Linked DNA regions of Homo sapiens. The protein of the gene in region 1 purifies or fractionates together with the protein of each later gene. This does not show direct contact. Each region holds a gene or a part of one and is shown in the gene's direction. Other genes may lie near its edges.

The links. Proteins that work in one complex are often made in the same cells at the same time.
Region 2: the proteins of SERPINB5 (region 1) and VRK1 purify together in Homo sapiens (affinity purification with mass spectrometry; 3 studies listed by BioGRID and IntAct, with this or other methods). This does not show direct contact.

Annotation. Positions count from the first base shown.
Region 1 is NC_000018.10:63,493,907-63,500,963, forward strand, and holds part of SERPINB5 (serpin B5), read left to right. Parts: intron 1-3,035; exon of another isoform or gene 3,036-3,597; intron 3,598-5,213; coding exon 5,214-5,381; intron 5,382-7,057. UniProt on the Homo sapiens protein: Tumor suppressor. It blocks the growth, invasion, and metastatic properties of mammary tumors.
Region 2 is NC_000014.9:96,793,201-96,800,435, forward strand, and holds the start of VRK1 (serine/threonine-protein kinase VRK1), read left to right. Parts: upstream 1-4,181; 5' UTR 4,182-4,247; intron 4,248-7,235. UniProt on the Homo sapiens protein: Serine/threonine kinase involved in the regulation of key cellular processes including the cell cycle, nuclear condensation, transcription regulation, and DNA damage response.

The DNA of each region.
Region 1 (7,057 bases):
TTGTTGGCTGTGAAAAAACAAAGTATGGCTTACTCATTGACATCACTGGAAGTCATTATGGGAAGAATTAAGGGCCTGTTTTGCAGGCCAGTCTCATTGATACTGTTGAAGTAAATATGTTAAATAATTAATAGAGGGTGGGCACAGTGGCTCATGCCTGTAATCCCAGCACCTTGGGAAGTCGAGGCAGGCAGATCACGAGGTCAGGAGTTTGAGACCAGCCTGACCAACATAGTAAAACCCCATCTCTACTAAAAATACAAAAATTAGCTGGGCATGGTGGCATGTGCCTGTAATCCCAGCTGCTCAGGAGGCTGAGACAGGAGAATGGCTTGAACCCAGGAGGCAGAGGTTGCAGTGAGCTGAGATTGTGCCACTGCACTCCAGCCTGGGTGACAAAGTGAGACTCCATCTCAAAAAAAAAAAAAAAAAAAAAAAAGAAATGGGTAAAGTACCTCTTTTGTAAATGAGATCAAGGAACTGAGACTGGAAATTTGACCCATTTTATTGGAAAACCCAGACATCTATATGATGATGTGATGTGGTCTCCGTGGGTGGGATCTGACTTGTGTTAGACTGGAAGCAGCACTTCAGTTAGTACAATACTTGAAGGTAGCTTAGTTACCTGTAGCTCCTACGCGTCAGTTCTAGTTTTCATGCTTCTCCCAGTAGTTAGAGTACTTAGCATCAATATCTTGTTTTTGCCAAATATAGTAGCACCTTCTTAATGCTAGCATCCATGAGGAAAAGCCCTGCAAGATACAATCTATGCCTGGGTTAGCCGGATGGCTTCCATTACTCTTTCTTTCTTTGTTCCCATGGAATTTTTATTCATACTCTCCCCTGTCCACTGCCAGAATTTGCTTTTCCACAGTGAAATCTGTTTACTTACATAGATCCCCTACTAGCGCATGGGATTTTTAAGGTAGGGACAATGCCTTATTCACCTCAGTGTCTACAATTTCTGGCCAAGTCCCTAACACATCAGTAGGTGCTCAGCAAATTTGCTGAATGAATGATCAGTCCCTAAGGGTCAGTTTGCTTAAACAATCAATAGCAGACAAAACCTGACTGGCCTTTGGGACTACCATGGTTTCCTATGCAAGACCCATTGGGCATTTTCACTGGGAGAAGACAATGATGACTGTTACTGCTCCTTACCAACTCAAAATATCCATGGGAGCTGAGGGATGGGTAGGAGGTCCTCCTAACTTCCTGAGTTTAGCTTCCCAACTGCAGTGGTCTTCTCAAAGCTGACTGCAGAGACAGGATTGACCCTGCACACAAGAGGTCTGTCTGAGATTCTAGAGACATAGCTTATGCTCTTCACACTCTTGTGTTTTGCACACACAGGTCCTTGAGTTTTAAGCATGGCTTTTTGACCTTCTCAGTATTGTCTTTTATCTGGAGTGGAAGTGGAACGTGACTTTACCCAGCCTCTACTGTGAGTTAGGGAGGGGTGTTGGCCCCACTGGCCCTGACGGCATCCACACAGCCTTTGCTGTCATAGAGTGACCCTTCTGGCTCCTTTGATTAGTGATTGGCTCTCCTCCATAGCAAGGGCTGGCAAAGGGTTCCTAACTCTGTTTAAGTGAAATCTGAAACAGGTTGCCAATGGTGCCTCTCTTCAAGACCCCAGAGCCAGCCTGGAAGGAACACCATGAAAATGTTGCAATAGTCAATGAGTAGAATGTGGACTTTTGTGTCAACCACACTAAGGGTCGTACTTTTTTCATTAAGAAAGTATTAACGTGTGTTTTTTGAGAAGGGAGGAAGAATGTGTGCTATTCCTTTATTCTTGCTATTAAATCATAAAGCTGGGTTATATAAGATCCTGGAAACTCAGCCTTTATGAACAGAATTAATAAAAGTTTGAAATGTCATTGATCTCTCAGTGTTTCACTTGATAAAGCAATAAAATGCTATTCACAGCTGCATGAGGCTACACCCTTCTTTTGAATGCAGATGCTATTACTTCTCCTTTGTTTTCTTTGAATTGCTTTGTCCACCCTAGAACTTTTTGAGTGACATTACTAAACCTTTTCTTATGCCCCGTGGTGTCTCCGGTAAGGGTTAGACTAAATTGGTGAAGTTATATCATTAAAAGTTTAGTATAGTACTTATTCTGATAAAGATATCTATCCATATATATCTATATTAGTATATATGTTGTATTATATTTTCTGGGGTAGATAGTCTTTATTTGGTCCTCTTTTCAGAAGATATGTCGTCTCAACATGTGTTTCAGAAAATAAAGTACCTGTAGTCAGTGCCGATAAGTGAAATTGATGACAGTTTTTGGAGGCCACAACTATGTGCACATTCAGAAACTATGAGCAGTCTAACCTGTTGGAGATTTTTAGACAAATTTCTTTAGGAGGAATATATTTTAAGACAATATCCTCTTTAGGAGAAATAAAGGGAAGAATTATCTGTTAACCTCCAAAGTAGTATGTTTTCCTATAATTCTGTTTTTGGTTACACATAGAGTTGAAGTCTTCCATTATTTATCAGCCAAATATTCAGTGAGAAACTACAAGCTGGGGTAGAAAATGAGACTTAGTTTCTGCCTTGACTGTATTCTAGTTGGGGTGGGAAGTGGAAAGACAATCACTAGATAATATTTCTAACACTGTGGCAAGTGTTAAAATAGAGGTATATACAAAAGTAAAATAAATAACGTTTAGCTCTGCTGGAGAGAGGTATTGGGGAAGGTTCAGCTTAGTATTTGAAGATACCAGATGCAAGTTTACTGGAGTATTATCCTTGCAGGCTTGATATGAAGTTTGAAATTTCTCCCCAAAGAGATTTAGTTAACAGGCAAATATCCCATGGGAGGTATATGTCAATAGGTTATACAACATTACTGTCAGTCTTTTACAACTTAGCGTGAATTAATTTTCCTTCAGGAAATCAGTCATCTCTGGAGCAGAGACAGGAGGCCAGGTGTTAATAGGAGCAAAGAGAAGAAAAGGCCTGGGCAGTGCTTGGACATAAAAGACCTGAACGATCAGACCCTTCCATGGGCTCCCTTTAAGAAGAGCAGGGAGAGACCAAGGGCTAAAGTTGGGAGACTGAGAAAATGCAGCCCACCGGGGCATTACTTATTTCTCCAGCTCTGATCCGCTGTTGTACTAGGGGTCTAATCCGGCCTGTGTCTGCCTCCTTCTTGAATAGCCCAGAGCATTCATCTAAACAGCCTTCCTACAGCAGCTCCCCACTTTAGGTGTGGCCAGACAGGAGTTCTAGACCAGGTTGTCTCCTGGGACATTGACACCGCAGCCAAGTTTATTGGTGCTGAGGCAGACACAGTTGGTGTGGTTGGTTCAGGGGCTAGCATTGGAATAGCGTTTGGCAGCTTGATCATTGGTTATTCCAGGAACCCATCTCTCAAGCAGCAGCTCTTCTCCTATGCGATTCTGGGCTTTGCCCTGTCTGAGGCCATGGGGCTCTTCTGTTTGATGGTCGCCTTCCTTATCCTCTTCGCCATGTGAAGCTCTGTGGGGGTCACCTGCCTGTCCCTGCTGCTGCGGCTGCACACCATTCTTGGTGCTGGGCTGTGCTAAGCTTTACCATTGAACACAACGTTTCTGAAAAAAAAAAAAAAAGAGCCAAGCATACAGTGGAGCTCAAAGGGACTTAGAGATAATTTTAAAAAGACTTAGAGATAATTTTAAAGAACATTTTCCTTTTTAAAAATTATGCAATACTCCAAGCATTCAGAAAATGATAGAGAATAATAAAACGAACACCCATATACCGATCAATCATCTTTTTGAACTTAATATTTTGCCTTAATTATTTCAGATATTTTAAAGAAAAAATATAACAACAGTTGCATTGCTTTGTATGTATCCCTTCACTGCTCACTCCACTGTCCTGTTCCTCTTTCTTCCTCCCCAGTGGTAACCATTATTCTGAATTTACAATTTCTTCATTCTACTGACAAGAATACTGAGGCCTGGAGAGATTGAGTGATTTGCTCAAGGCCACAGAATCTGTTTATGTCACATTTGGGACTAAAAACCAAGGTTCTTATCTTCAATTTAGACTTTGTTAATTAGCTCAGATCTGAGTAGGTGGCAGTACAGTGGGGAGTGGGCAATTCAAACCAAAGACAAACAGAGAGGTCACAACAAATATTGTTTTGTTCTGCTATGTGCTAAGTTTGTTGTTGTTATTGTTCTGTTTTGTTTTGAGATGGAGTCTCGCTCTGTTGCCCAGGCTGGAGTGAGTGCAGTGGTATGATCTTGGCTCACACCAACTTCTGGCTCCCAGGCTCAAGCAATTCTCCTCCCTCAGTTTCCCAAGAAGCTGAGATTACAGGCGTGTGCCACCATGCCTGGCTGACTTTTGTATTTTTTAGTAGAGACAAGGTTTCACCATGTTGGCCAGGCTGGTCTTGAACTCCTGACCTCAAGTGGTCTCCCAAGGTGCAGGATTACAGGCATGAGGCACCGTGCCCAGCCAGTTTTTGAAATTAGGCATTTTATTAGGAAAAGCCGTATAAATGGTTATGTGGGTTTGCAGTAGAATTTACTTTCAAGTCAGCTCCACCAGGAATAGTTTAAAGATCTCATAGGCATCTGTAAAGAATAACAAACGTTGCCTATATTTACAGCCATACAGTCTTATTTTTAAGGTTTGATCTATGCAAATACAGTATTATATATACTTCATGTAATGTGTAACATGTAGATTATAAAGTATATGAATAACTTTTCAAAGGAACACAAACTCTTCACAGGACAGTCTCTGGTTTCAGTGCAATACAGTTTGGATCTGAGTGGATGATGAATTATAAGCCATAATAATCTGACACTGTGTCAAGAGCAAATTTGTGTATATATATATATGTACATATATATTTATGTGTTTGCCTATATATGTGTATATATGTGCATGTGTGTATATATGTATGGGGTATATATATATAGTATGTATATATAAGTGTGTATATATAGGTGTGTGTATATGTATATGTATGTATATGTATGTATGCATATATATGTATATGTGTATATATAGGTGTATGTATATATGTATGTGTATCTGTATATATATAGGTGTAGGTATATATGTATGTGTGTCTGTATATATACATGTGGGTATATATGTGTGTGTGTGTGCGCGCGTGTGTGTATATATATATATATATATATTTATGCATGTGTAAATTGAAAAGTAAGCAGTCCAAATTTTCCCTTTTACAGACAGACACCAAACCAGTGCAGATGATGAACATGGAGGCCACGTTCTGTATGGGAAACATTGACAGTATCAATTGTAAGATCATAGAGCTTCCTTTTCAAAATAAGCATCTCAGCATGTTCATCCTACTACCCAAGGATGTGGAGGATGAGTCCACAGGCTTGGAGAAGGTAAGGAGAAGGCAGGTGCTCTCCACAAAGGCACCCCCTGCCTTGGCAAAGAGTTGTGCCAACAGGTCTGTGTGGGCCGTGAGAGCTGGGCCGGTAGCCCTCCCTTATTGCCACTGGCTCAGTCACCTCCAAGGACCCATGGTTCTTTCTGGGGCCTTTCCTCCTTAATATTAACAACAGCCAAAATTTATTTGGCACTTACAGTGTTCTAGGGACTGTGCTAAGTTGCCTACGTGCATTATCTCATTTAATTCTTACAGCAGGCTGATGAGTTAGAGACTGTTACCACACTCTTGTTTACCAGTGAGGGAGCTGAGGCACAGAGGGGTGGGTAACTGGTTACATAATTAGTCAAGGGTGTGTGCAGGATCAGGATTTGGGCCCAGGTAGTTGGAGCCAGGTTCTTAACTGAAGGCTAGAGTGTCTCCCTCACCTCCTAGGCAGTTAAGGCACTACGTTGCTACGCACTGCCAGGTCCACTATCATGTGACCTGATGTCAAGCATCCTCTCTCTTGCTCTTTCTTTTTTTTTAAAATTAGTAGATGTTATTTTTAGAGTAGATCTATGCCTACAGAAAAATAAGCAGAAAGTACAAGGAGTTCCCATATACTCCCCTTCCCGTCCCAGGCCTACAGTTTCACCTGTTATTAGCATCTTGCATTAGTTTGGTATGTTTGTTACAATTGATGAGCCAATACTGACATATTACTATTATTATTATTATTATTATTATTATTGTTTTAGAGACAGGGTCTTGCTCCATTGCCCAGGCTGGAGTGCAGTGGCATGATGGTAGCTCACTCTAACCTCAAACTCCTGGGCAGGCTGGAGTGCAGTGGCATGATGGTAGCTCACTCTAACCTCAAACTCCTGGGCTCAAGTGATCCTCCTGCCTCAGCCTCCCAAGTAGCTGGGACTAAAGGCACACAGCACTATGCCTGGCTTTTTTTTTTTTTGTAAAGGTGGGATCTCACTGTGTTGTCCAGGCTGGTCTTGAAATCCTGGCCTCAAGCAATCCTCAGCCTCAGCCTCCTGAAGTGCTAGGATTATAGGCATGAGCCACCACACCTGGCCTTCACAATTTACGTTACGGTTCACTCTTTGTGTTGTACATTTATGAGATTTTAATACGTACACATATATGCTTCAAAATTTTGAATTATGCAGATACTATTTTATAGTACACATTATATATAAGTATTTTATTTTATATGATAAGGGTTATTATATTATTTTATTTATATAGATTTTTAAGGCACAAAGTTTAAATAAGAGTAGCAGTTTTCTCTGCAGGTGAATGGAGTTTTAGCTTCCTCTCTGCTCCCTCACCTCTGCTTAGCTGGCTGAGGCCTGTTCTCCCTTTAGTCCCTCCCTGGCTTCCATTCTAGCTCCACCCCGCCTGGCCTCAACCCTTGGCCAGGAAGGAAGAAGGGGCTCTTTGAAGGCCTGGATCACTTGCTATATATCCACATGGGCCTCAGTGATTTGCTGACTTTCCAGGGGACCATCCAGTCTCCAGCTTGCTCCTTTGGTTGCCATTATGTTTTAGCCACCACTTTATTAACTGAATTATAATTCCTGTCCTTCTTCTTCTTTGGTGCATTACTCTCTCTGTTTTTTTTCTTTCCATTTTATGCTTTGATCTTTCAGCCATTATCCAGCTGTCTTGGATTTT
Region 2 (7,235 bases), on another chromosome or scaffold:
ATCAAGGAGAAGTATGAGTGAGGTGGGGGAAAGCCCCTTATAAAACCATCAGATCTCAGGAGAACTCACTCCTACCCATAACACGTGGGGATTATGGGAACTATAATTCAAGATGAGATTTGGGTGGGGATGCAGCCAATCCATATCAGACACTCTGCCTGACACATGGTAGATCCTCAAAAGTCCTTGCTAAAAGGGAAATAAGGGTTCTGGGCACTTGGGATGAGATAAAGCATCAAGAGCAGGTGGGGGAGTACAAACCAGGGTCAGGGTACTCAGAAGACCCTGATCACATTCTGCCCCTCACTCCTCTCTCCTTTCCTTTCTCCCAGGAAGTAATATTGTCTTGGGCTTTTCTTAGGCCACTTACACTGAGTAAGGACACCCTAGTGACTTTGTTCTGGATAGATCAAAGCCCTTCTCAAACATTACCTCATCTGCCTCCCATCAGCCTGGGGTGGCAGAGAGCCGGTTGGCCCAGAATGATTGCTCCCATTCTACAGATGAAAACAACAAGGACAAGGATGCATAAACTGACTCACGGGTTGAATCAGTGCCTCCTGGGCAGCCCGCCAGGACGATGTTGCTTCCTAATGACTATGGCGTTTGTTTGAAGTTTATAGATTGGGTTTCTGCCACGGTGGAGCCAACACCAACCTCCTCACACTTTCCCAAAGTGCCTGGATTATTTTTATTTTTCTATACCTTTGTGTTAGGGCTCCCAGAGATGAAAAAAAAAAAGGAACTCTGGGGTCTCACTATGCAGCAAATCAATACAGATCCCATGTATAAATTTTTAGTTGGTTTGCCTTTACTGGGAAGCTAGAAGATTTTTATTCACTAGGTCACCCTGCTTCATCTATGATGACCCCTTAACCAGGAATCTCAGTACTAGGCTATGATAGCATTCTGTACAAGTCTCCACCACTGTGCTAAAATTATTTCTTTGTAAGGACAGTCCTCATGTATTGAGGCTGGGCATAAAGGGGCAGTAAAAAGAACATTTGGAAGTAGATTCAGGGGACCAAGAATCATTGTCCAAATTCTTTGAGATTTTTTTCCCCTCTAAGAATTGGGGAAACAATATGTGTGAAAAATCACAGTGCCTGACAAATAGTAGGGCCTCCTTAAGCATTAAACCAGGGTCCCTGGAATTTGGCTCAATCCCTGGCTCACAGTAAGTGCTCTGTAAACATTTGTTTGGACCGTATAGATATTTTGAATATATGGCAGGATTACTTTTATGAACCTTTCCTGCCTAGTACAATTCTTAATTTCTTCTTCTTCTTCTTCTTCTTCTTCTTTTTTTTTTTTTGTTTGAGACGGAGTCTCACTCTGTCGCCAGGCTGGAGTGCAGTGGCGCGATCTCGGCTCACTGCAACCTCCGCCTGCCGGGTTCGAGCGACTCTCCCACCTCAGCCTCCTGAGTAGCTGGGATTACAGGTGCCTGCCACCACACCCAGCTAATTTTTTGTATCTTTAGTAGAGACAGGGTTTCACCATGTTGGCCAAGCTGGTCTCAAACTCCTAACCTCGTGATCCGCCAGCCTCGGCCTCCCAAAGTGCTGGGATTACAGGCGTGAGCCATCAATTCTTAATTTCTAAAGCCCACCAACAGCAAGTCCTCGCTGGTCAATCTTATGTATGACCCTGATCTTGACACCAAGCTATCAACTCATAAAAACGTGCCAAGGGTCTGCTAGCTTTGAGAGTTGTATCCCCATCTATAGCATTTCAGACATGTTGTCTCTGTGACAGCAGCTTGGACTGGTGACCTGCCATGCTCTGCACTGGGAAGACATCTCAGCATGTGTGGATGATGTTGTAGGTGCCGGCAACTGCCTTGGAACAGGGCTGCACGTAAGGAGTGTTTAACAGTGAGCCATCAGATCAAGGGTGCCAGGGCCAAGAGCTCCAGAATAAATACATTCCATTCTTACCTTACACTGTTGCTGATTTAATTGTGCTTTAAAGTCAGTCAATTGTCAACCCAGTGTGGAAACAGGGATGTTTCTTCACGTGTCTATTGTGAGGTTAGGGGAACATGGTCACACTATGACAGATAAGTCCTGTTCCAAGTTTTCTTAACATATGTGTGTATTTGTGTGGGTGTGGGTGTGGGTGTGTGTGTCTTTCTCTCAGTGGATTCTGGCCACAGAGTCTTGCTGGGGGATTCCACACCCATGAGATGTGTGAATCTTGAGACTTTTTTGCTGACAGATTTTATCGAGTGCTCACCTTGCCCATGCTCTGTTAGGGTCTCAACAGGAAGCAGATGACATAATTCCAAATAGGGTAATTTGAGGAAGGTTATTTGCAATGAGACTATTTACAACGGTGTTGGGGGTAGGAACCACGAGGGAGGATGCAGTAACTTGTGGGTCAGCAGCAGCCGTGATGTCATCACTTCCAGACCTGAGGCACAAAGGGAAGGGCTACTACCGCAAACTGGAGGGAGGGCCAGGGAGCAGTGACCTTCAGCTGAGGGACCTGCCAACTGGAGGTGACCTTGCCAGTCAGGATCCAGGGGCTTAACCTACTCTAACCAACCTTTCTTTTTCCTCCAATCTTCTGTGGGGTTCTCCACTGGGCACGCCCCAAAGCCAGGGGGCACAGGGAGCGCGAAGTAATTTGTAGAGGTCAGCCTCCTGGGGCAGAGGGCAGGCAGGAGAAGTATTTGGAGCAGATGAGGGTATCTGGAGGGGAAAATGTAAGACATCAGGCACAATATTGCCCTGTCTAATGGACAGAGTGATTCCAGGTTTTGTAGGGACTGAAGCTCACATAATTTTGGGGGATCTACTTTAAGAAAAATCAGCTGGGTGTGGTGGCTCATGCCTGTAATTCTAGCACTTTGGGAGGCTGAGGCGGGGTGGATTGTTTGAGCTCAGGAGTTCAAGACCAGCCTGGGCAACATGGTCAAACCCTGTCTCTACAAAAAATACAAAAATTAGCCAGAAGTGGTGGCCTGTGCGTGTAATCCCAGCTACTCGGAGGGTTGAGGTGGGAGGATTGCTTGAGCCCAGGAGGTCGTGGCTGCAGTGAACCGAGATCGCGCCAATGCATTGCAGCCTGGGTGACAAAGTGAGACTATATCTTTAAAAAAAAGAAAAAGAAAAGTAAAATCGACAAATAAACCCCCAAAGCTATGTAAACTCATTGAGGGACCTGCGCAAGTGAGGTCCTGAAGCTTACGCTTCATTGGCTTCATTGTTAATCTCCCTCTGCCTGTGACTTCAGTGATTTTGACCTAGAACAATGACCCAGTGCCCAATAAGCTCTCAGCCTCATGGGTGATGGAGACTTAGCTGATTATAATAAACACAATGCGGCCGGGCGCGGTGGCTCACGCCTGTAATCCCAGCACTTGGCGAGGCCAAGGCGGGCGGATCACAAGGTCAGGAGATCGAGACCATCCTGGCTAACACGGTGAAACCCCGTCTCTACTAAAAACAGAAAAAAATTAGCTGGGCGTGATGGCGAGCGCCTGTAGTCCCAGCTACTCGGGAGGCTGAGGCAGGAGAATGGCGTGAACCCGGGAGACGGAGCTTGCAGTGAGCCGAGACTGTGCCACTGTACTCCAGCCTGGGCGACAGAGTGAGACTCCGTCTCAAAAAAATAAATAAATAAAAATAAATAATAAACACAATGCAAACTGTGGCATACGTTGATTACAGATGAAACACTATAGATGATTAGGTAGACATTGAGATATGCTTTGAAATAGGCTTCGAAAAACAGGTAGGATTTAGACACATATCAATGAGTGGGCAGAATAATACTAACACTATCTGCTATTTATTGAGCACCAACTAAGTTTAAAGTACTGCCTATAGATTATTTCATTTAATCCTAACAGAAACAGGAAACTTATTTTACACCCAACTCTCTGCCAATACACTTAATAAATCAAGCTACTACGAACAAGGCTGTAAACCACATTTCCTAGAAGACCAGGGAGCAGAAGGACGGGGATCTCCCTTTGCCGCTAAGAGACTCCAACTCCCAGGATGCCTTGGGAGCGCTGGACCACAGCTCCCGGCATTCCCGGGGAGGCGCGGGGCTAGCGTAGCCTCCGCCCCGCGCCTCGCGTTACCACTCGTCCCGCCCCTCCTCGTCGCCTCCGAGCCAATGGGAAGGCTCCATACTGCAGGGTGCGAAGGGGCCGGCGCCGCTGCCGAGTTACGAGTCGGCGAAAGCGGCGGGAAGTTCGTACTGGGCAGAACGCGACGGGTCTGCGGCTTAGGGTAGGGAGGCCGCAGGCGACACGGCTCGAGGACTCGCGCGCCGAGCCGGGGGCGCGGAGGCGGGCGGCCGGGGCTGGGGCCGGCACTGGGCCTTCCGGGCGGCCTGTGGGTCCACCGGGGTGCGGGAGTCGCCGTCAGCCTCGGTCGCCCCGCGGGACCGCGCTCCGCCGCGTGGCTTCCGCCTGCGCGGGCGTCCGCTCCTTCCTTGTCTCGTTCAGGCCCCGCAGGCGCCCCCGGGGATGCCTGGACTGGCCAGGCCGGCCCCCATCTGAGCTCCACGTTCTGGACGCGCGTGGTGTCGCGGCCGAGCTCGCAAACGCCGCCTCGGGCCTCACCGGGAAGCCGGTTCTGTCAGGCGGGGCTCCGGGTGAACAGCGCAGGCGAGGCCCCTGCCCCGCAGAGCTCACTCTGTAGAAGGGAAACAACACACGCAGCTGCGATGTTTTGCGGATACGGAAATGCTTTCTTAGAAACGGGACAGGCAGTTGCGGGCTAGAGGAATGGGGGCGAGGCTCTTTAGGTTAGGTGATCCGGGAGGGCATCTCAGAGGATGTGACCTTTGACTTGAGACCTGAGAGGGGAGGCCGACCCCTGAGGATAGCAGCCAGGCCTGGGGACCGCGAGGCCGCCCGTTATTTCCCTGTCACATCGCGGGGAGGCCCCGTGATCCTGTACTTGAGGGTCTGTCTGGTGCAAGGCAGTTAGAGCCGCTTGTGTGTTTTGCAAGGGACTTTCATAACCGTTTGACAGTTCCTCCTCATTCTGTCCTTACCTGGCAGGGTGGCATCCTTTACTGTTGCAGCTCCATTCAGGGGCAACGCATAGTTTTTCCTACCACCGAAATAGTATTGTGGTTCTCGTCTCAAAACTCTTAGGTGGTAGAATTAAATTCGACAGACAGCAGCAGAGTCAGACACTATAGGTTCCTGTTGAGGCCACCCATTTTTCTGATGTCCTTTCTTTCAAGTCACTCATTTTTGTTTTCCTTTGTATAGACTCTTCCCTTCCCTTTCCTGTGTCCCTTTCTTGGAACAACTTGGAAATACAATTTGCTATTGGGAGGATGTTGGTTTTAGGGAACTGTTGAAGAACTTCATTAATTATTGTGTGTGTGTTTTTCTTTTCTTCTTCTTTTTTTTTAAACTGGAATTGCCCATCTGTTGAGACTGAAATTCAAGAGTAAAAAAAAGTAGGGCAGCATTTATTTTCAAGAGTTGACAATAAAGGCACCTTTCTTTATGACATGCTGAGCATGATACTTTGGGGGAGAATTTAATCTAGAATTTTGAAGCATTTTCAGAAGGAAGCAAGGGTTCTTTATATAGTCATTTTATGTAGGTTACGTTTATGTTCTTCAAAATGGCATGTAGTGATTGGAATTAAATTTCTGGGTAGATAAGATTATGTTCATCTGTTACCTATAGAAGGGAATGTAACTTAAGTAGTCACTTAATAATAGCTTTCTCTGTTGATGCTACCACAGATGGTATTCTCTACATCTCAACATTGCTGATCAGATTCTGTGTTAATACAGTAACACAACTTGAATTTAATAACAATAAACTTGTGTTAGGCGTTACTGTCAATTTAGTTCTGGTATCCAGTACAAATACCAGTTTTATAGTGCAATGTCTTCTTGTTATGTTCAGTGCTGCAAAAATTATGAGAGGATATTTGTTAAACAAATGAGATAATGGAGTAATGTGTTAAGCATAGAGCCTGGCATATAGTAAGTTAGTAAGTGCCCAGGAAATGGTTATATGGAAAGCTTATGCTAAGTTTTATTCCAGTATGCAAGTGTGTATTTTAAAAATAACAGTAATGCATTCAAAATGTTGACAGACCCTAAAATTAAATTTCTTAAAGGAAATAGGCCAGCTTTTTTTTTTAACTTTGAGAACTAATGTGAAATAATAATAAATATATAAGTGAAATGTCCCAGATGTCTAGAAATGAAAAAACAAGATTTTAATTTTGACAGCTATATTTTTTTTTCTTAAAAGCATCCCTAATAAGATATAATGTACTATGATTAGGATTATGATTTGAAAAATAAAACTTTAAAAATATTTTTGATTTGAAAAATAAAACTTATTTGGAAATGAAGCGAAGCTTTAAGATTTACCTTATATCAAATGAAGGATGTCTCCTGAATTTATGCAAATGTGCAAATGCTTATATCTCCGTAGATCAGGCAGTGAGCCTAATGGGAATTAAATGCTGCCTCTTTGTGCGTGTGAGTGAGGCTTTCATGAAAATTGCTCTTGATGGGTTCTGAGAATGGATTGGTAGCTGAATAGGACTGGAGAATATTTTTCAGACTGGTAGGATATTTTACATGCTTGCCAGGGTTATTTTTCGGAGTAAGGAGAAATGGACTCATTTATTCAGCAGAGATCACGTGCCCCCTATTTACAAGGAATTGTGCTAGGTGCAAAGTCTATTGCTATTGTAGTGTTTTGCTGAAGCAAGTTTTCTTTGTTTTAAATTAGTGTACGTCTTTTTTTTTTTTTTTTTAACTTTATCTAGCATCCAGCACAGAATAATCCAATAAATGTGTAGGGCGCCTTTGAAAAACTGCACTATTAATGTTAAAATGTAGAAAATGTTTAATAAAGGTACAAGATTAATTTAAAAGGGTGATAGAACCCTAATAAAACATTTAGGTAGGTGTTGTAACCAAGATGTATTTTTACTCTAGGATAAGTTTGGCTCTTTTGATCAAAATTCCTGTGAATATATTTCTACTTGCCATTATAAAGATGCAGAGGGCTCTGTCCTTTGAATTTTTTCCCTTTGGTGCTTGAATGATATTTAAGCACCCAGCATTCTGAAGTTGCTGTTTTGAAGTAATTTCATGCACTTTCCCAATTACTCCTGCTCCATCTCTCCCAATGTTGTCTTAAATCTTTGCACTCAAATTCAAGCACATCCTACTCCTCCTGTTCTGAGTGACATATGGGCAACACTTTAAAAAAGAAAAGCTCT